5 separate regions of the Homo sapiens genome follow, and all the other regions are linked to region 3. The links come from fine-mapping of genetic effects on gene expression. A gene starts in region 3. Each other region holds a variant in brackets. All regions are shown on one strand. Distances are from middle to middle. Region 1 overlaps CDC16 (cell division cycle 16). Region 2 overlaps CDC16 (cell division cycle 16). Region 3 holds the start of CFAP97D2 (CFAP97 domain containing 2). Region 4 holds the start of RASA3 (RAS p21 protein activator 3). Region 5 has its middle 21 kb from the start of CFAP97D2.

The links.
Region 1: its variant is fine-mapped to the expression of CFAP97D2 in whole blood (INTERVAL, PIP above 0.99).
Region 2: its variant is fine-mapped to the expression of CFAP97D2 in whole blood (TOPMed, PIP 0.98).
Region 4: its variant is fine-mapped to the expression of CFAP97D2 in whole blood (TOPMed, PIP 0.97).
Region 5: its variant is fine-mapped to the expression of CFAP97D2 in whole blood (TOPMed, PIP above 0.99). The same link has a PIP of 0.9 or more in blood mononuclear cells.

The regions. Positions count from the first base shown.
Region 1 is chr13:114,236,732-114,240,731 of GRCh38, reverse strand. CDC16 (cell division cycle 16) reads right to left here. Exons shown (of 18, transcript NM_001078645.3): 3 at 3,836-3,933; 4 at 1,704-1,742; 5 at 1,242-1,382. Among named protein-coding and RNA genes, the nearest start is that of CDC16, 3.8 kb to the right of the region's middle. The variant G/A (reference allele first, on the strand shown) is at 2,435.
Region 2 is chr13:114,246,909-114,250,908 of GRCh38, reverse strand. CDC16 (cell division cycle 16) reads right to left here. Exons shown (of 18, transcript NM_001078645.3): 11 at 3,905-3,978; 12 at 235-360. LOC105370384 (a long non-coding RNA gene) reads left to right here. Exons shown (of 4, transcript XR_007063887.1): 4 at 190-293. Among named protein-coding and RNA genes, the nearest start is that of MIR548AR, 4.4 kb to the right of the region's middle. The variant T/C (reference allele first, on the strand shown) is at 2,263.
Region 3 is chr13:114,176,857-114,181,049 of GRCh38, reverse strand. It overlaps CFAP97D2 (CFAP97 domain containing 2), which reads right to left and starts at 1,793. Exons shown (of 4, transcript NM_001395229.1): 1 at 1,630-1,793. The coding sequence starts at 1,719.
Region 4 is chr13:114,131,042-114,135,238 of GRCh38, reverse strand. It overlaps RASA3 (RAS p21 protein activator 3), which reads left to right and starts at 2,616. Exons shown (of 24, transcript NM_007368.4): 1 at 2,616-2,804. The coding sequence starts at 2,750. RefSeq lists enhancers at 95-595, 425-604, 2,893-3,520, 3,691-4,190 and silencers at 2,311-2,410, 2,441-3,100. The variant T/G (reference allele first, on the strand shown) is at 2,413.
Region 5 is chr13:114,156,374-114,160,570 of GRCh38, reverse strand. No RefSeq gene overlaps it. Among named protein-coding and RNA genes, the nearest start is that of CFAP97D2, 21 kb to the left of the region's middle. The variant C/T (reference allele first, on the strand shown) is at 1,686.

The sequences.
Region 1 (4,000 bases), 60 kb before region 3:
TCTTTTATGCTTAAAAATAACTATCTAAGGTGAAAAGTCAAGTAATAAACTTCTACCAAAAATATAAATAAATGGGCCAGGTGCAGTGGCTCATGACTGTAATCCCAACACTTTGGGAAACTAAGGCAGGAGGATCACTTGAGCCCAGGAGTTTGAGACCATCCTGGGCAACACAGTGAGACCCTGTCTCTACAAAACATTTTTTAAAAAATTTAGCCAACTGTGCCGGGCACAGTGGCTCACACCTGTAATCCCAGCACTTTGGGAGGCCGAGGTGGGCAAACCACGAGGTCAGGAGATCGAGACCATCCTGGCTAACATGGTGAAACCCCGTCTCTACTAAAATAGCAAAAAATTAGCCGGGCATGGTGGCGGGCGCCTGTAGTCCCAGCTACTCGGGAGGCTGAGGTGGGAGAATCACTTGAGCTTGGGAGGTTGAGGCTGCAGTGAGCTGTGATTGTGCCACTGCACTCCAGCCTGGACAACAAAGCAAAGACCCTGTCTTAATTTAAAAAAAAAAGATGTGGGAAGAAAGAGAAATTGGTAGGTCAGGTAAGGCTTACAGGGATTCTTTCTGAATAATAAAAATATTCTAAAATTGACCATGGTGAGGTTTGCAAAGCTCTGTGAATACACTAAAAGGAATCAAACCATACAGTTTAAATGGGGGAACTGCATGGCATATAAATTATACCTCAATAAGTTTTTATTTTTTTTTTTAAATCCAGATTAGTGATCTGTAAATGTCACTTAATAAGTTACTATATGATGTCTGCCAGCAAGGAATGTGCAATTTCATGGAGATATGAAGTATACAAACTGAAATATACACAATTACATAGCAATGTACTTTGAAGCAAACAGAACACAAAACCATTTCCTGGAAAGAAACAATGTACGCTAATCAAAGTTTCTTGGTGTAGGTCCAAAACACTGCTGAAACACAGAAAGGAGAAGAAAAATTATTCCACTTTTAGGGAGTAGCTTAAGGCATCAAATATGAGAAGGAAGTTTCAAGCCAGCCTATTTTGGATGCAGGCATCTGCGGATACAATTACAGCTTGCAACTAAGGGCTCAGAAATGTCTCAGAATCTTTTTTGGTTTTGGTGGGCAAATTAAATAAATTGGCAACCACAATTGTTTTAATATAGTAATAAGTAAAAGAAGATAATGTGTTTCTGCCACGTAATGAGGGCAATTCTCGCCGCCGTTACTGAGCTGTGCTCACAGTACTACTTACTGAAGACTGTGACATTTCCCAGTCGCTGGAAGGATCTTTGAAGCCACTTTCGTCCTTCAAGTATTTTTCAAATAATCTTTTATTGATGGGCTCTTCCATGTCAAGAACATCAAGGGCCTGCTGGTGCTCTTTTGCAGCATACTACGTGGAAAACAGAAGTGCCGCTCATCACTCACGACTTCTAACACGAAACACATGATCCGAATTTTTAAAGGATAACATATACTATGCCCATTATTTAAATGTGAAATGTCTAAAGTAGAATTTTCTTCATGCATGTCAGCATGTGGTAAACGAAGAATCAGTATTTTATAGCAAACATGACTAAGGAAAGGAACACTTCCTCATGAAATACTTTACTAACCTGCTAAGCTCCATCACTAAAATTCTCACACATATTTAAGAGATGCATAACACTCATTTTATTCAACCAAATAAAAATGAAATTATGAGCATACTTACATGGCACCTAGCTGCAAGGTAACGACATGCTTCATACAACTAGGAAAGAAATTAATTTGTTTAAGTAGTGGTCAAAATAATATGTATCTTCACTTTCAAAGAAAGCCATAAGCATAAAATAGAACTAATTTCATAATTTCTCCTTTTACTCTTGCAGTTAAAAAAAAAATCCAGTCCTGTTAAACCATATTTATTATGAACCTACTGTTTACTAGGCACCAAGGATTCAAAAGCAGTAAGGCCCTGCCCCAGGAGGTTACAGTAGGGGAGATGTGAACTAAGCACAACAGGTAAGCATGACGAAACGGGGCAACAGAAAGCATCAACCAGGTGGAGAAGTAAACATCTGCAGGAGAGCGAGTAAGTGAGGCAGCGAGTAAGTGGTCAGGCAGAGGAGTGGAGCACTGGGTAGCTCTTCAAGCACTGAGTGTGAATAACTGCTGGGGGTCCAAGGAGATCGCAGCAGCTCCACTTCAGGCACTGAGTGTGAATAACTGCTGGGCGTCCGAGGAGATCGCAGCAGCTCCACTTCAGGCCCTGAGTGTGAATAACTGCTGGGCGTCCGAGGAGCTCGCAGCAGCTCCACTTCAGGCCCTGAGTGTGAATAACTGCTGGGCGTCCGAGGAGCTCGCAGCAGCTCCACTTCAGGCACTGAGTGTGAATAACTGCTGGGCATCCGAGGAGATCGCAGCAGCTCCACTTCAGGCCCTGAGTGTGAATAACTGCTGGGC[G/A]TCCGAGGAGCTCACAGCAGCTCCACTTCAGGCACTGAGTGTGAATAACTGCTGGGCGTCCGAGGAGATCGCAGCAGCTCCACTTCAGGCCCTCAGTGTGAATAACTGCTGGGCGTCCGAGGAGCTCACAGCAGCTCCACTTCAGGCACTGAGTGTGAATAACTGCTGGGCGTCCAAGGAGATCGCAGCAGCTCCACTTCAGGCCCTGAGTGTGAATAACTGCTGGGTGTCCAAGGAGCTCACAGCAGCACCACGTGACTGGAGCACGTGCTCCAGGTATTGATGGTGGTGGATTAGACGCAGAGTGGAGAGAAAACAAGGAGGGCCTCACAGACCTACTGATGCATCTGACTTTATCCTGCAGCTAATGGGAAGTCACTGAATGACTTTGTGGGAATATAACCACATCCGTGTTTTAAAGACTACTCACTCCTGTAATAGTTCACAAGATGAACTTGTGACAGGGAAGATAAGAAGAGAGAAACTGTTACTGGGGAAAAGAGACAAGAAGAGAGGCTGTAACAGAACAGACAAAAAAATCAAAGGCCTGACACGTACGAGTGGGGAGGAAGAGGAATATCCATGATTCCAGAGCTGTTTAGAAAACAGTCTTCAGAATTTAGAGACTAGATGGGAGATGGGGGAAAAAGAAGGTGACAGATTAGGTATAAGACATTTTCCCTTCACTTTCACTAAAAAAAAACTGGGCCTACTGTGATGACTCACATCTATAATCCCAGCACTTTGGGAGACCAAGGCGGGAGGACTGCTTGAGACCAGGAGTTCAAGACTAGCCTGGGCAACATAGTGAGGCTCTGTCTCTACCAAAAAAATTTAAAAATTAGCTGGGTGTGGTGGCATGCACCTGTAGTCCCAGCTATTAGGGAGGCTGAGGCAGAAGGATCACTTGAACTCAGGAGTCTGAGGTTATAGTGAGCCACGATCATCCCACTGCACTCCTGGGTGACACAGAGAGACCTCAAAAAAACAAAAACAAAGAAAAATTGCATCAAGTTAAATAATTTCAACAGAAATGGAATATACACCTAAAACCCTAATGACTTTTTTTTTTTTTGAGACAGAGTCTTGCTCTGTTGTCCAGGCTGGAGTGCAATGCACGAACTCAGCTCACTGCAACCTCCACCTCCCAGGTTCAAGTAATTCTCTGCCTCAGCCTCCCGAGTAGCTGGGATTACAGGCGCCTGCCACCACGTCCGGCTAATTTTTGTATTTTTAGCGGAGATGGGGTTTCACCATCTTGGTCTTGAGCTCCTGACCTCATGATCCACCTGCCTTGGCTTTCCAAAGCGCTGGGATTACAGGTGTAAGCCACCGCGCCCGGCCACTAATGACATTTTTTTTAAAGCTCTGAAGAGCTTTAAAGTTCATACCATCACTTACTTTGTCCAGTTTTCGTGACCGAAGTGCATGGGCGGCTCTGTGATATTGTGCTGTCAGGTAAAGACACTGAGCCAACCAATAGATGTCCTGGGGTTCTTCTGGAGGGAAAAATTCACATAAGTGGTCAGAGGTACAAGGTGAAATAGAAAACGAATTTTAAGATTA
Region 2 (4,000 bases), 70 kb before region 3:
AATTTCCTGGTTGCTTCTTGCACTGGTTGGAATCAACTGCTAGGCAAATGCATACACCAGCTTCTCTCCCCTCCACTTTCATAGTTATTTTACAATCACAAGCAACTAGATTAAAAGGCAAGTAAAATGTTTGTGTTTAGTTTAGCAACCAAATAGCAGTAATAGTAATAGAAATTTCATTTCTATTAGGAAAAACATCCCTTCATGGAGTTTGATGAGTTTGCTCTGCCGTACCCTTTCATCAGCTGTGCTGCTGTGAAGTAAGCAGCCATCGCTTGGTCGTGCTCACTCTCCACCGCAAATGAATGTCCATAGGCTATCCATGCAGGTCCATAGGTTTTCTCAAGTGTTGTGGCTTTGCTAAAACAAAAGAGTTAATTTAAGTCATATAGTATTTATTCTTTTTTTTTTTTTTTTGAGACAAAGTCTCACTTTGTCGCTCAGGCTGGAGTGCAGTGGTGCGATCTCGGCTCTCTGCAGCCTCCGCCTCCAGATACCAAGCAATTCTCCTACCTCAACCTCCCGAGTAGCTGGGATTACAGGCACCCGCCACCATGCCCGGCTAATTTTGTATTCACAGTAGAGATGGGGTTTCACCATGTCGGTCAGGCTGGTCTTGAACTCCTGACCTCAGGTGCTCCACCCACCTTGGCCTCCCAAAGTGCTGGGATTACAGGCGTGAGCCACTGCGCCCAGCCTATTTATTATTTTTTATTTTTAGAGACAGAGTTTTGCTCTGTCGCTGGAGGCTGGAATGCAGTGGTATGATCATAGCTCACTGCAGCCTCAAAATCCTGGGCTCAAGTAATCCTTCTGCCTCAGGCTCTTGAGTCACTGAGATTACAGGCACGAGCCACTGTGCCCAGCTAGTATTTATTCTTGAATTGTTAATTTTATATAAGGAGATGGCCTCAAAAACATTAACATCCATTTAGTAAACAAGCTGTCACCACATTAAACACTAATGTAACATTTGTGTTGATTCATTTGAACTAAAACTGTTTAATAGTATAGCAAAATTTTAAGAAATTTGAGGAGATCCACAGCTTTTTATGCACTGTAGCAAAACCCATTAGCATTCTAAATAGAACTTACAGATATTACTTAATCCAGGAGCTCCATTTTGTAACCTAGTAGATACATCCTCTCATCCTAATAACTTGCAAGATAAATTCATTTATATTTTAAAGACAGGTATACCAAGGCTTGAGGGATTAGGCGATATCCTATAGATGATGGTCAACAGATATACCCTGGTTACAGGGACTGGACTCATATATATCAGTGAATAATTGTATACAGTGAACACTGTATAATTAACCCACAAGGAATAAAGAGAACATATCACAAAACGTGGAAGACATAGGGGGTGATACCCTACTTCCTTGTATTTTAAGTTTTCTTTTATCCAAATGTTACCTGTTTCATGTAGAGCAGGGGTCCCAACCCCTGGGCCACAGACTGGTATCAGTCCCTGGCCTATTAGGAACCAGGCGGCACAGCAGGAGGTGAGTGGCAGGCAGGTGAGTAAAGCTTCATATGTCAAGAAAGAACTTGCCATTTGAAAAAAAAAAAAGCTTAATCTGTATTTACAGCCACTCCCCTTCACTTGCATTTCCGCCTGAGCTCTGCCTCCTGTCAGATCAGAGGCATTAGGTTCTCGTAAGTGCGCAAACCCTATTGTTAACTGCACATGTGAGGGATCTAGGTGGCGCACTCCTTACGAGAATCTAATGCCTGATGACCTGTCGCTGTCTCCCATCTCTCCCAGATGGGACCATCTAGTTGCAGGAAAACAAGCTCAGGGCTCCCACTGATTCTTCATTATAGTGAGTTGTATAATTATTTCATTATATGCTACAATGTAATAATAATAGAAAAAAGCACACGATAAATGTAATGCGCTTGAATCATCAAGAAACCAGTCCCCCCACCCTGGGAGGGGGGGCTTCTACAAAATGGTCCCTGGTGCCAAAAATGTTGGGGACCACTGATAAGAGTCCATCACTGAATTGCACGCTAGATCAAAGCAGCATAGCTCAAAATAACTTTTACAATACTAATCATCTTTCTATGTAGAAGTTCTTCTAAAATGCTGAACATACAACCAACCAGGGAACATTCTAGTTTCTTCCTAGTACAGGGTACTTTCGTGGCATCAGTCTTCCTAACAATCCTGCTATATGAGTATGACATCTCCCCCACCCCCACTCCCTTTTATTTTTTTTGAGACAGAGTCTCACTCTGTCGGCGAGGCTGGAG[T/C]GCAGTAGTGCAATCTCAGCTCACTACAACCTCCACCTCCTGGACTCAAACAATTCTCCTCCCTCAGCCTCCCAAGTAGCGGGGATTACAGGTGCATGCCACCATGTCCAGCTGATTTTTTTATTTTTAGTAGAGACAGACTTTCACCATGTTGGCCAGGCTGGTCTCGAACTCCTGACCTAAGGTAATCTGCCTGTCTCGGCCTCCCAAAGTGTTGGGATTACAGGCGTGAGCCACCACGCCTGGCTGACATCCCCATTTTTAAAGAAAGAGAGAGCAGGAGAAATTAACTTTCCCAAGGAATTTCAGTTGGTAAGTCACAGAACTTGGATTAGAATTCAAATTTGACTCCAAAGTTTATGCTGTTTCCGTTAGAGACCAATTCTGTTTTATTTGCACGGAAGAAACCACAGAAATTAGAACATTTACAGAGTTTAAGTAATTAATTCTTCACATACTTGACATTTTTCTAAACTTGAATAATACTGGTTAAATAGCTTCACTAGGCTGCATGGCTTTCCTTAAGTTAAAACCACAGCAAATCATTACATGAATCAGTTCACCCTGCTAAGAATTCTGTTTTATAGTCACATTTAGTGACCCCAATTTTACATAAAGTTTTGTGTAATTTCACAACTATTAATAAAAGAAATCCTAAAAGTAAAAGGTTAACAGGATCTCTGTAAGCGAAAGAGAGAAACTTTCAAACTACATTATTCTCTATTGTTTCATATTTATTCTCATTTATTAATTATTATTATTATTTTTTTGAGACAGAGTTTTGCTCTTGTCACCCAGACTGGAGTGCAATGGTGCGATATCAGCTCACTGCAACCTCCACTTTCCAGGTTCAAGCGATTCTCCTGTCTCAGCCTCCCGAGTAGCTGGGATGCAGATGCCCACTACTATATCTGGCTAATTTTTTGTATTTTTAGTAGACAGAGTTTCACCATGTTAGTCAGGCTGGTCTTGAACTCCTGACCTCAGGTGATCCACCTGCATTGACCTCCCAAAGTGCTGGCATAACAGGTGTGAGCCACCATGCCTGGCCATTTATTCTCATTAATAAATAAAATATGTAGGTTCCCTGAGAATAGGGTCTACATCACTGATTTTTTTTTTCTCTCTCTCCCCATGGCATCTTATAAAGAACAAACCACTTGAAGAAAACATTTATTCAGCCAGGCATGGTGGCTCATGCCTGTCATCTCAACACTTTCGGAGGCCGAAGCAAGAGGACTGCTTGAGGCCAGGAGTTCAAGACCAGCCTAGGCAACACAGTGAGATTCGTCTCTACTAAAAAAAAAAAAAAATGTTTAAATCAGCTAGGCATGGTGGTGCCTGTAGTCCCAGCTACTCGGGAGGCTGAGCAAGAGGATCATTTGAGTTTGAGGTGAGCTATTATTGCACCACTGCACTCTAGTCTGGGCAACAGAGTGAGAACCCTCGAGAGAGAGGGGAGGGGAGGTGAGAAGGAAAAGAAAAGGCAAGAAAGAAAGAGAGAAAGAAAAGAAAGGAAGAAAAAAAAAAACATTTATTCTTTCACATTGCTTTTAAAGTACTCACTAATTACTACTTGAAAGCTTATGAGCAAGACATCAATTCTACAGGTTAACTAGAGAGGAAAAAAATAAATTCATACCTGAGATATCTTCTGGCATGTTCATTTTTATGACCGACCATGAGATAGTAACATCCCACTGCAAACCAAGACACCTAAAAAGTTCAAAATTTACCA
Region 3 (4,193 bases):
ACTCCATCCTTGGACCCAGTACCTGTAGGTTTCCGACGTCACAGAGCTGCTAAACTAGCTTATGCCCCCTGGGGCCTCATGGCTCCAGTCAACCTACCAAAGTTCACTATTCAATCATCTCTGCACCTCCCATGACGACAATTTCAACCTTCTTTACCTTACAGTTTCTCAGGTACAGAGCCTGGTTACTCACTTAGGCTGCAGGATTACTGACCAGCTACCTCATGCAGGAGGTATTCTAGTCCCCGGGATACAAAAGCAAACAAGAAAACACCCATGGGGTTTCTATCCTGTAGTATTACTGTAATGCTAACTGATTCATATGTGCTATTGCCTTACCCACTGCTTTCCATCTTTCCCTACTGACAACGGTTGACCAAGTGCTCACTCCACACTCTACGTGCAGAGAACATCGTGGTGGGCAGGACGTGGTCAGCACTGAGTGGGGAAAACAACACAAGTAATGAACATGCCCATCAATCACGTGGCAACAGGAGGTAGCAGGCCCAGGAACCAGAGAGCGGCAGAGGGGAGAGAGAAGACTCCAGGGAGATGATATTGGAACCGGAGTGCCAGGAAGTGAGGTTGAGCTGGGGAAGGAGCCGGGAAGAGTTCCCAGTGGGGACCTCAAAGGAGACAGCAGGTGCAGAGGCCTGACGTGGGGTGGGGGCTGGGTGCTATGGCGCCTTGCAATGAGTGTGACCTGCAGCCCAGGCCACACAATGTCACTTGCAACCCTAGGAGGAAGAGAAATGCTTGACCTGCAGTTCACTCCTTGGGGTAGTCACTTAAGATCATTACAGGGCAGTGTCTCCATTCCCAGAAACAGAAACCCAAACTTCTCCTTCTTAAGAGTATTTCCAGCCTGATCAACACACATGTGGAGACATGATACATGGAACATCGTTCTCTGACGCCTCCACTGAGGTGTGGGCAGAAGACTGTGGGAGGCCACCTCAGATCTGCATGGCGATGCCCTCAAACAATTGTCCACATTTGCATCCAATAAATGGAAATAATAACATATCTTCTAATGGGGACAAGGGTTGGCTTTTAGTCCCCCTTGGAGTCCACTGTTTTGATAGAGAAAAGGATGCCGGGCCGGGCACGGTGGCTCATGCCTGTAATCCCAGCACTTTGGGAGGCTGAGGCAGGTGGATCACCTGAAATCAGGAGTTCAAGACTAGCCTGACCAACATGGCAACACCCCTATGGCAACATCCCTCTCAAAAACAAACAAAAACAAAAACAAAAACAAAAAACAAAAAGAAAGAAAAAGAAAAGGATGCTTCTGGTGTTTTTGTCTTAAGATGCTTTCAAGTCACTTAGGAAAAATTAAGTACTTCTTAAATATATGCTGTGATTAGAAATAGGATGGCCCTAAAACATGGCACATGAAAGCTGTCATCTCAAAAAAAAAAAAGAAAGAAAGAAAGCCGTCAACTATTTAATGAGATTTTTATTGTATGGCAACATAGATGATGAATCTTGTTAGGAAATGTCATTTCAACCATGCTGTCTCCAAAAAGAAAATCACCTCCAGGACTCCAGGGAAAGCAGAGGCATTTCGTGGGCGCTGCTTGGTGCCCGCCCGCTGAGCTGTCAGGGCTGGATTGGGGACTTTCCTACCTTTCTCCTGTGGTCCTGATAGGCTTTCTCCCTTGCATGCCACAGGTACTCACTGGCACAGGGAAAGGTCAGCCGGGGGGCTCCGTGCATCTCAGCAACAAAATCGTCTTGCTCATTCCAGACAGAGGAGCAGCTGGGGCCTGGTGCAGACCTGGAGACGCTGTGTTTGCAGGGTCATGTGACAGTTGTCATGGCGTCCAAGGAGGGGGAAGAACGGGAGCCAGAAGACAGTCTGGGATTCTCAAACAACACGCGAAGAATAATGGTGAAGAGTGGGATCTTCTTCTCCACTGGGGTGTTTTTTTTTTTCAGGAGATCTTGGATAGTTTAGTGTTGCCATTTTGATGCCACTCCTCAGCTACAGAGGAAGGAGATAATCACACATAAGATCCGAGAAATTCTCCAACTAACCTTCCTCCTGCCCACCCTTCCTTTGCTCCTTGCTGTCTTCCTCTCCCCTACCTCTTTCTTCTGCCCTTCCTCCCAACCTCTCCCGCTCTCCAGTTCTTTCCTTTCTTAATTAGTACCTTTCTTTCTGCTTTCCTTATCTCCTTTCTCTTCTATCTTGAATAATTTATATAATTCAGACAATTCCAAAATATTTGTTTGAAGGTTAGGCAGCAGATCCTCCCTAATTTTTCTGATTGACTTGAAGACGAGTTATGCAAAGGCTTAGCTGTTTTAAGCCACCCTCTCTCCATTGCTCTAATCAGGTTGGGATGGGTTTTTCCTGAGACGAATGGAGTGAACATGGCGCTAGGACAGCTGTCGGTCGTTTCATCTTCGTTGAAGCCACGTGCGCAATGTTGGCGACGACACATCAGAGGATTTGGTTAATGAGAAAATAGCATCATCATTTTCATGTCAGAGCTGTGGTCTTCATTACACTACAGCTCTCATCACATGAGACTCCAGTGCAGAATCCATGGATGGGAACTCATTGTTCAGCTTTGCATATGTGAGGAGCAGATACAGGGCATTTCATGAGAAATTTGCTCTGAATATTAGCAGGATGTAGTGGCTGCCAGTCTGAAAGAAAGAATCAGATCTGGAAGTAATAAGATGTGAGTGAAGCCAAAATATGACTTTATTTCCTCCCCTGCCACTCTTGAGGTGGCTGAGGTGCTCTGTACTCAGCTAGCTCTGATGATCTTCAACATTTGGCAGAAGCCTTTATAGGCTGTTAAAATTGTTGATTTAATGAAAATTTTAAAGTTGCCTGGGTTTTTGAAAAGAAAAATTTATTTTAATACATAATTGTTCACAAGTATTAATTTTTAGATAACTTGCATATACTGTAGAATTTAGATGTAAGAATTCCTACCTAGAAATACAACCAGCACTTTAAGACATGAGGCTTAGTTATGATTTCTTAGCCTATACAATCTAAATGTTACATTCAGAGGAATTCTATTAGAATAATCAATTTCCTTTACTCTGATATTGTCATTGGTCAAAAATGACTAGAAAAAGCCTAATATTCAGTAGGTGCTCAACAAATACCTAATATTCAGTAGGTGCTCGACAAATACCTGACAGTCATGCTGATGGGAAGTAGTGCTGTCCATGCTATTGGCTGGTTCCTCAGCTGGGACTCGGAGTCAGACCGTGGGGCTGTCTTCCCTTGTTCCTTCATCCTGTGTGCTGAGAAGCCTGACTGTGCTTGCTGCTGCCATCGGTTGGTGGATGGAGGAGTGAGGGCTGTGCTCTATGTCTGCTCACACTCACATGGATAAAGCGTGCATTGAGGGCAAAGTGGACAAAATATGTGACGTTTGAAGTTTTTGTTTTTACAGTGTGGGGATTCACAGTGGTTTGGATGCACACACTGTTTTTGATGCTCCTGGTCAAATGAAGTGAGCTCAGGTCAGGGAAGGAGTCCCAGCTGCCACCCACGGCTGCCACCCACGGCTGCCACCCACGGCTGTCCACCCACGGCTGTCACTCACAGCTGCCTCCCACAGGGAAGGAGTCCCAGCTGCCACCCACGGCTGCCACCCACACTGTCCACCCACGGCTGTCACCCACAGCTGTCCACCCACAGCTGCCACCCTCAGGGAAGGAGTCCCAGCTGCCACCCAAGGCTGTCACTCACAGCTGCCACCCTCAGGGAAGGAGTCCTAGCTGTCCACCCACAGCTGTCACCCATGCTGTCCACCCATGGCTGTCACCCACAGCTGTCATCCACATGGAAGGAGTCCCAGCTGTCCACCCACGGCTGCCACCCATGCTGTCCACCCACAGCTGTCACCCACAGGGAAGGAGTCCTAGCTGCCACCCACGGCTGCCACCCATGCTGTCCACCCACGGCTGTCACCCACAGCTGTCACCCACAGGGAAGGAGTCCCAGCTGCCACCCACGGCTGTCACTCACAGCTGCCACCCTCAGGGAAGGAGTCCTAGCTGTCCACTCACAGCTGCCACCCATGATGTCCACCCACGGCTGTCACCCACAGCTGTCCACCCACAGCTGTCACCCATGCTGTCCACCCACGGCTGTCACCCACAGCTGTCCACCCACAGCTGTCACCCATGCTGTCCACCCATGGCTGTCACCCACAGCT
Region 4 (4,197 bases), 46 kb after region 3:
CTTCTTCCCAGTCAGGGTCCAGAGCTTGGAACAGCACCTTCCGAGGCCGAGCACCCGAACCTGGAACAACACCTTCTGAGGCCAAGCACCTGGCCTTCTCTGGAGCTCTGCCTTCTACACGGTTAAGTCCTGGCCCTGATCCAGTGTTTTGGTTTTCCTCTGGTCACAGGAGATGAGTGTCTTATGTGGCACTGAGGAGGCCCGTTAGCGTGCCACCCTTTTGTTTCAGGTGGTGATCTTTTCATTATCTTGCCCTCAACACGAGCCACCTGATTCCATAGTCCATGTATCTGTGACTTTCCCGAACTCTCCAGCACCCGAGATCCTGCCGCTGCCAGTGCATTTCCTTCCAAGGGGCTCCCGTCCTGGCTGCCACTGCTGCAGTCTGGAGATTCACTCCTGACCCCAGCTGTCGCCTGGAAACAAACACCAAAGCGAGATCCGCGTTGAGTTTATCAGCAGGCCTGTGAGGGTGGAGGGATGGCAGAGAAGCAGCTTTGTGGCTGGGCTGCCACAGAGGACTCCACTGGTCCTCGGAGAAACACAGGAGCCGGCTTGCTTCCAGTGGCTCCAAACGGAAGCATAGTCTCCGTCGTAAAGCAGGGGTGTGGATGGCGTCCACAGCACCCACTGCAGACGCCACCCAGGGCCAGCGCTAGACGCAGAGGCTCTGGGTTGGAACCAGGGGTGCCGCCTTAACCTCCTGTTCTGCCCCAGTGAGCACCAGGCTTGCAAGGGCTGAGGATGAGAGAGGCCCCTGTGGCTGCAGGCTCCCAGCAGTCAGGGGAAGAAAGGCCATTCATTCTTTCAACGCATGGAACTGCTTTTTAGGAAGTGAAGGTAAGCAGTGGAAAAAAATAGGCCTCTATCTTCATGAAGCTCCTGTTCCTCTCCATGCAGTGTGTGTGTGTTTGTGTATGTTCACGTAGGTGTGTGTATGTATGTTTAGTGTGTATGTCTGTGCATGTGTATGGGTAGTATATGTGTGTGCTGTCTGTGTTGTGTGTATATGAACATATGTGTTCATGTGTATATGTGGTGTGTGTATGTAGGGTGTGTGTATATGTGTGTATATGTATGTGTGTACACGTGTGTAGTATGTGTGTGGTGTCTGTGTGTGGTGTCTATGTGTATGTATATGTATATGTAGTGTATGTGTGGTATATGTATGTGTGTATATATGTGTAGGGTGTGTGTGTGGCACTGGGTGCAATGAAGTTTTGCAACATAGAGGAGGGAGTGTAGTCTCAGTTCATATACACACCTACAGTTCATACACACACACAAACATACTCCTCAGAGAGGAGGTCAGGGAGGAGGAGACCTCGAGACAGAAGAAAGGGAGGTAAGGGTGGTACCTGCCCATGCTGGGGTCTGCAGGGGGACTGGGGGGGGACCTGCCCATGCCGGGGTCTGCAGGGGGACTTGGGGGGGGACCTGCCCATGCTGGGGTCTGCAAGGGGACTTGGGGGGGGACCTGCCCATGCCGGGGTCTGCAGGGGGACTTGGGGGGGGGACCTGCTCATGCCGGGGTCTGCAGGGGGACTGGGGGGGGACCTGCTCATGCCGGGGTCTGCAGGGGGACTGGGGGGGGACCTGCCCATGCCGGGGTCTGCAGGGGAACTGGGGGGGGACCTGCCCATGCCGGGGTCTGCAGGGGGACTTGGGGGGGGGACCTGCCCATGCCGGGGTCTGCAGGGGGACTGGGGGGGGACCTGCCCATGCCGGGGTCTGCAGGGGACTGGGGGGGGACCTGCCCATGCTGGGGTCTGCAGGGGGACTTGGGGGGGGGACCTGCTCATGCTGGGGTCTGCAGGGGGACTGGGGGGGGACCTGCTCATGCTGGGGTCTGCAGGGGGACTGGGTGGGGGAGACCTGCCGGTGCCGGGGTCTGCAGGGGGACTGGGGGGGGACCTGCCCGTGCCGGGGTCTGCAGGGGGACTGGGGGGGGACCTGCCCATGCCGGGGTCTGCAGGGGGACTGGGGGGGACCTGCCCATGCCGGGGTCTGCAGGGGGACTGGGGGGGGAGACCTGCCCATGCCGGGGTCTGCAGGGGGACTGGGGGGGGGAGACCTGCCCATGCCGGGGTCTGCAGGGGGACTGGGGGGGGGGAGACCTGCCCATGCTGGGGTCTGCAGGGGGACTTGGGGGGGGGACCTGCCCATGCCGGAGGTCTGGGGTGGGGGGCTGTGTGTGCGTGTATGTGTCCCCGCCCCCCTCGTGCGTCTGCAGCAGGTGCCTTCGGATCGCATCTCAGGAGCTGGGGCTGGGCGCGGGATTCCTCCCCTGCCAGATCGTTGTACGTGAACTTCTCTTGGCAAAGTTCGTCCGCGAGTCAATCGCTCAGCCTCGCTCAGCGGGCCCGGGCCGCGCCGGCGACCTTCCTTCGTCTCTTCCGCCAGGCAGCCCGC[T/G]GGGGTCCCTTCCGCTCAGCGGCCAATCCGCGGGGCGGGGGCGGGGGCCGAGGCCTCGGGGGAAGCCGATCCCTGCGCCCCCCGGGTCTCCGCCACCCGCCAGCGCCGTCCCTGCCAACCCCGCCCCTGCAGGGCCCGGGCCAGTTGGGAGCAGGGGCCGGGCCGCGGGCGGAGCCTCCCGGTCCCCGCCCTCGCCCTCGGCCAACTGGCGGTCTTGCAGGCGGGCGGACCCTCGGCCGCGCTCGGGGCTCCGGCGCCGCCGCTCCTCCTGCTCGGCCTGAGCTGCCCGGGCTCGGCGCGCGCTTGGGGCGAGGCTCGGCGGGCGCGGACGCGCAGCATGGCGGTGGAGGACGAGGGGCTCCGGGTCTTCCAGAGCGTGAAGATCAAGATCGGTGAGTGTCCGCCGGCAGCCACGCGTCCGACCCCCCGGCCCGACCCTGTCCTCTCCCGCGCCCGCCTCCCCTCCGCAGATCCTTGCTGGGGACCCCGGCGGAGACGCCCTCCAGGCGCGGCGCGCTCCCCGGAGAACGGCTGGTCCGGCTCCGCGGCCCCTCCCCACCTCCCCGCCTCCCCGGGCCTCGGGCTGGGTCGAGTCGGCTCCGGGGTAACGCGGCTCCCTGCGCCTCCTCTGCGCCCGGAGCGGCCCCGGTCCCTGGTAGCGGCGGAGGAGGTGGGGTCCCTGCGCCGAGGGACGTCTGTCCGCGTGTGCGCCCGAGCGTGTGCCCCGCGTGTTTGCAGGAGTGCGCGCGCCTGAGGCTGTCTGGGCGCCTGCACTTCAGGTGTCAAATCCACTGACGTCGGGGTCTCGGCATCTCCCTTTCTCCGCTGCGCCCAGAAACTTCCTTTCCGGGGAATGTGGAGGCTCCTTCACGCTTCTCCCCAGGGGCGTGAGGCCCCGGCGCGCTGCTGCTGCTGTGCGCGCGCGTCTGTGCCTGCGTGCGCGCGTGTTTGTGTGTGCTTGTGTTTGTGTGTCCATGTGTGGGCGGTGTGTGTGCGCGTGCGTTTGTGGGTGCATGTGTGGGTGCGTATTTGTGTGTGGATGCATGTGTGCGCGCGTGTGTATTTGTGTGTGGGCGCGTGTGTGTGCGCGCGTTTGTGTGTGTGCATGTGTGCGTGTGTGCTGGTGGGGCGTTCTGGCTGAGGGCTCCCGCGGGGCGGGGAGACCCCGGACCCATCGGCACCACGTCCCTTTCCACTGAGAAGTGGCGGGCGAGCTGGTGGCGACCAGGGCCTGCGAGGCTGCGGTTTTTCTCTGGGCTTCAGCAGCTTCTGAAGTGGGCTCCCGGAGGCGTTTCCGGAGAGGAGGCTGTGTCTGGACTTCTGGTTTATCTGGAGGGATCTGCTTTTCCCTGGTTGTTTTATCTTGGGAGAGTGATGTGGAAGTCCTCCCCCTCCCCCAGAGCAAGACCGTTTCCTGGAGTGACTGTTCCATATTCATGCCATGAGTGTGCTGGACCACAGCGCGGTTCAGGCTGGAGAGGCTTCCAGGGCCTGCAGTGTCGCGGTCCCCACGGTCCTTCTCCCCCACTGAGCCGCACTTCGCAGCCGGCCTCTTCCCGTGTGAAGAGGCCTCCGGGAACGGGCTGAGTGTCAGTTGTTGATGACATTTGATGCTGCCGGAGGCATTCCAGCTCCCCTAAACCAGCGGGCTGTTTCCTGTCGGCTTTATTTTGGTTTGCGGATCATCGCTGAGACACTGTCTTGATATTTGGCCCAGAAGCGCTGCAGCTAGGATGTGGCAGCACTTCCGCTTTGAGTAGTCCAGAGAGGAGGGATTTCTTTTGT
Region 5 (4,197 bases), 20 kb after region 3:
GCAGAAACTGCAAGCATTCCTATACACCAATAATAGACAAGCAGAGAGCCAAATCATGAATGAATTTCCATTCACAATTGCTGCGAAGACAATAAAATACCTAGGAATACAGCTAACAAGGGAAGTGAATGACCTCTTCAAGGAGAACTACAAACCACTGTTCAAGGAAATCAGAGAGGACACAAACAAATGGAAACACACTGCATGGTCATGAACAGGAAGAATCAATGTTGTGAAAATGGCCATATTGCCTACAGTAATTTATAGATTCAATGCAATTCCCTTTAAACTACCATTGACGTTCTTCACAGAATTAGAAAAAACTACTTTAAAATTCATATGGGACCAAAAAAGAGCCGATATAGCCAAGACAATCCTAAGGAAAAAGAACGAAGCTGGATGCTTCAGTTACCTGACCTCAGACAAGGCTGCAGTAACCAAAACAGCATGGCACTGGCACAAAAACAGACACATAGACCAATGGAACAGAATAAAGAACTCAGAACTAAGACCACACATCTTCAGCCATCTGATCTTTGACAAACTTGACTAAAACATGCAATGGGGAAAGGATTTCCTGTCTAATAAATGGTGCCAGGAAAACTGGCTAGCCACATCCAGAAAATTGAAACTGGACCCCTTTCTTACACCTTATATTAAAATCAATTCAAGATGGATTAAAGACTTAAATGTAAAACTCCAAACTATAAAAACCCTAGAAGAAAATCTCAGCAATACCATTCAGGACACAGTCACGGGCAAATATTTCATGATGAAATCACCAAAAGCAATTGTAACAAAAGCAAAAATTGACAAATGGGACCTAATTAAACTAAAGAGCTTCTGCACAGCAAAAGAAACTGTCATCAGAGTGAACAGGCAACCTACAGAATGGGAGAAAATTTTTGCAAACTCTCCATCTGACAGAGGTCTAATATCCAGAATCTACAAGGAACTTAAACAAATTTATAAGAAAAAAACCCAACAACCTTGTTGTTAAAAAGTTGGCAAAGGACATGAACAGACACTTCTCAAAAGAAGACATACATGTGGCCAACAAGCATAGGAGAAACAGCTCAACATCGCTGATCATTAGAGAAATGCAAATCAAAACCACAATGAGAAACCATCTCACGCCAGCCAGAATGGAGATTATTAAAAACTCAAGAAACAACGGATGCTGGTGAGGCTGTAGAGAAATAGAAATGCTTTTACACTGTTGGTGGGAGTGTAAATTAGTTCAACCATTGTGGAAGACAGTGTGGTGATTCCTCAAAGATCTGGAACCAGAAATACCATTTGGCTCAGCAATCTCATTACTGGGTGTATACCCAAAGGATTATAAATCATTCTATTATAAAGATACACGTATGCGTATGTTCATTGTAGCATTATTCACAATAGCAAAGACATGGAATCAACCCAAATGCCCATCAATGATAGACTGGACAAAGAAAACGTGGCACATATACCCCATGGAATACTACGCAGCCATAAAAAGGAATGCGATCATGTCTTTGCAGGGACATGGATGGAGCTGGAAGCCGTTATCCTCTGCAAACTAACACAGGAACAGAAAACCAAACACTGCGTGTTCTCACTTATAAGTGAGAGCTGAACAATGAGAACACATGGACACAGGGAGGGGAACAACACACACCGGGGCCTGTCGTGGGGTTGGGGGG[C/T]GGGAGAGCATCAGGAAAAATAAGATAATGTATGCTGGACTTAATATCTAGGTGAAGGGTTGATCTGTGCAGCAAATCACCATGGCACACGTTTACCTATGCAACAAGGCTGCACGTCCTGCACATGTATCCCAGAACTTAAAATAAAATAAAATGAAATTAAAGAAAAAAAAAGATGATCTGCTACATAATGCCTTTCACAAGAATGCGACCAGGGATGAATTTACCCCCTGTGCTCAGCGTGACTGAAGTTCTTAGGAGAGCAATAGTCTAATGTTCACCTCCACATTTTACAGACGTTGAGAACACCACGCACGGGGTCTTTGGAAGTGCTGGAATGCCCCCAGATGTCTAAGCACTCTGTCCTGTCCTGAACTCCCGCTAAGTGGAGGGCAGTTGCTGCTGGGCACCCTGAATGCAGGGCCTCCCTCCTCTTCAGGCCCAGTTGGATTGAAACAAAGTCCAAGGAGAAACGTGTAGCCCCAAAGAGAACAGGAATAGAGGTGCTGGCAGATGAGAATGGCCAATGATTTCCAAAGGTGGAAGGGGATGCAAGGGTGTGGGCGGTGGGGCAGGGTGAAGGCGCCCAGCCAGAGATGCTCAGAGATCAATGGTGGAGGCCAGGGTCATCTTGCTGAGGGATCCCAGAGTGGCACTGAGCTGGGAGGTCAAAGGGAGATAGATGTGGGGCTGAAAACGGGGTGGGGGCTGGTAATTCCAGTTGCCTGTGAACAAGTGCCTGGCAGTAGTCACCTCTGCAACCCGTGCCTGCGTCTGTATCCCGCCAAGAAGCCAGCAGGTTCCCAGGCAGCGTCAGAAGATTCTTATTCACGGCCCTGGAGTCAGCATCCTGGGTGTGGCCACAGCTTGCAGCCTGGGTCTAGGGCCCCAGGGTAAAATCTTTTTTTTTTTTAATTATACTTTAAGTTTTAGGGTACATGTGCACAACGTGCAGGTTTGTTACATATGTATACATGTGCCATGTTGGTGTGCTGCACCCATTAACTCGTCATTTACATTAGGTATATCTCCTAATGCTATCCCTCCCCCCAACCCCACAACAGGCCCCGTGTGTGATGTTCCCCTTCCTGTGTCCATGTGTTCTCATTGTTCAATTCCCACCTATGAGTGAGAACATGCAGTGTTTGGTTTTTTGTCCTTGCGATAGTTTGCTGAGAATGATGGTTTCCAGCTTCATCCATGTCCCTACAAAGGACATGCACTCATCATTTTTTCATGGCTGCACAGTATTCCATGGTGTATATGTGCCTTATTCTAGTGTGGATTGCAGTGTTTCGGGGGAAGGGAGAGATGCTAGCCTGCTGCCTGCTCCTCACCCATCTGTCCTAAATAAAGCACAGCCACGCCCCGTCTGTGGATTCCCTCCCAGCTCACCTTTCCACCCCCAGCTACCTTTCCACCCCTAGCTCACCTTTCCACCTGGAGGACCCCACGGAAAACCCACAGTATCCCATCTAAATGAGCCACTGGTTCTTAGACACAGGTGAGCAGGCTTCTCCAGACTTTCCATAGAAACCAGCGACAGAGGGGGAGGATCCACAAAGGTGACAGCTGGCTGGGCGTGGTGGCTCATGCCTGTAATCCCAGCACTTTGGGAGGCCGAGGTGGGTGGATTGAGAGTTCGGGAGTTCACGACCAGCCTGGCCAACATGGAGAAACCCCGTCTCTACTAAAAATACAAAATTAGCCGGGCATGGTGGTGCATGCCTGTAATCCCAGCTACTCGGGAGGCTGAGGCAGGAGAATCGCTTGAACCCGGGAGGCGGAGGTTGCGGTGAGCTGAGACCGCACCATTGCACTCCAGCCTGGGCACTCCAGCCTGGGCAACAAGAGTGAAACTCCGTCTCAAAAAAAAAAAAAAAAAGGTGACAGCTGACCTCAGAGAAAACAGCTAAGTGGGAAAACAAAAAATGAAGTTAAAGATCTAATTACTGTCCTCAGAATATTCAAGAAAATACGCATATAGGTAACATAAGAACAGAATACTAGTTAAGAACAGGCAGAGAGCAGGAAAGATGTTTAAAATATGATTTCTGAACTGAAAATCCCACGAAAGAGATGGACTTCAGGGTCCAGTGAGGTTTCCAGAATATGCCTCAAAAAGACAGATGGAGAATTCTCAAGGAGAGATTAAAGTCCTGGACCATGCGCTGAGGAAATGCCAGGCGAATAGGCTTCAGAGAAGAGAAGGGAGGCAGGACGCTTCCTCCACAGAGGAAACTTTCCGGAGCAGAAGGACAGGGCAGAGGCTGGTGGGGAGGTGGGGGCAAGCAAGGAGACCCAGGACAGGGGACCGAAAGGACACTTCCTCTCCTCTTCTGGGGAGAAAAACAATCAAAAGGAGAAAGAGAAACAGAAACACATTCCAGTTACCTTGACACCAGGACTGGGAAGGGCGAGGGTGAAGGTCGGGGAGCCCAGAGGAGGTGCACACCCCACGCCCAGCACCCACCCCATCCACGCCCAGCACCCACCCTTCCCCACCCCTCCC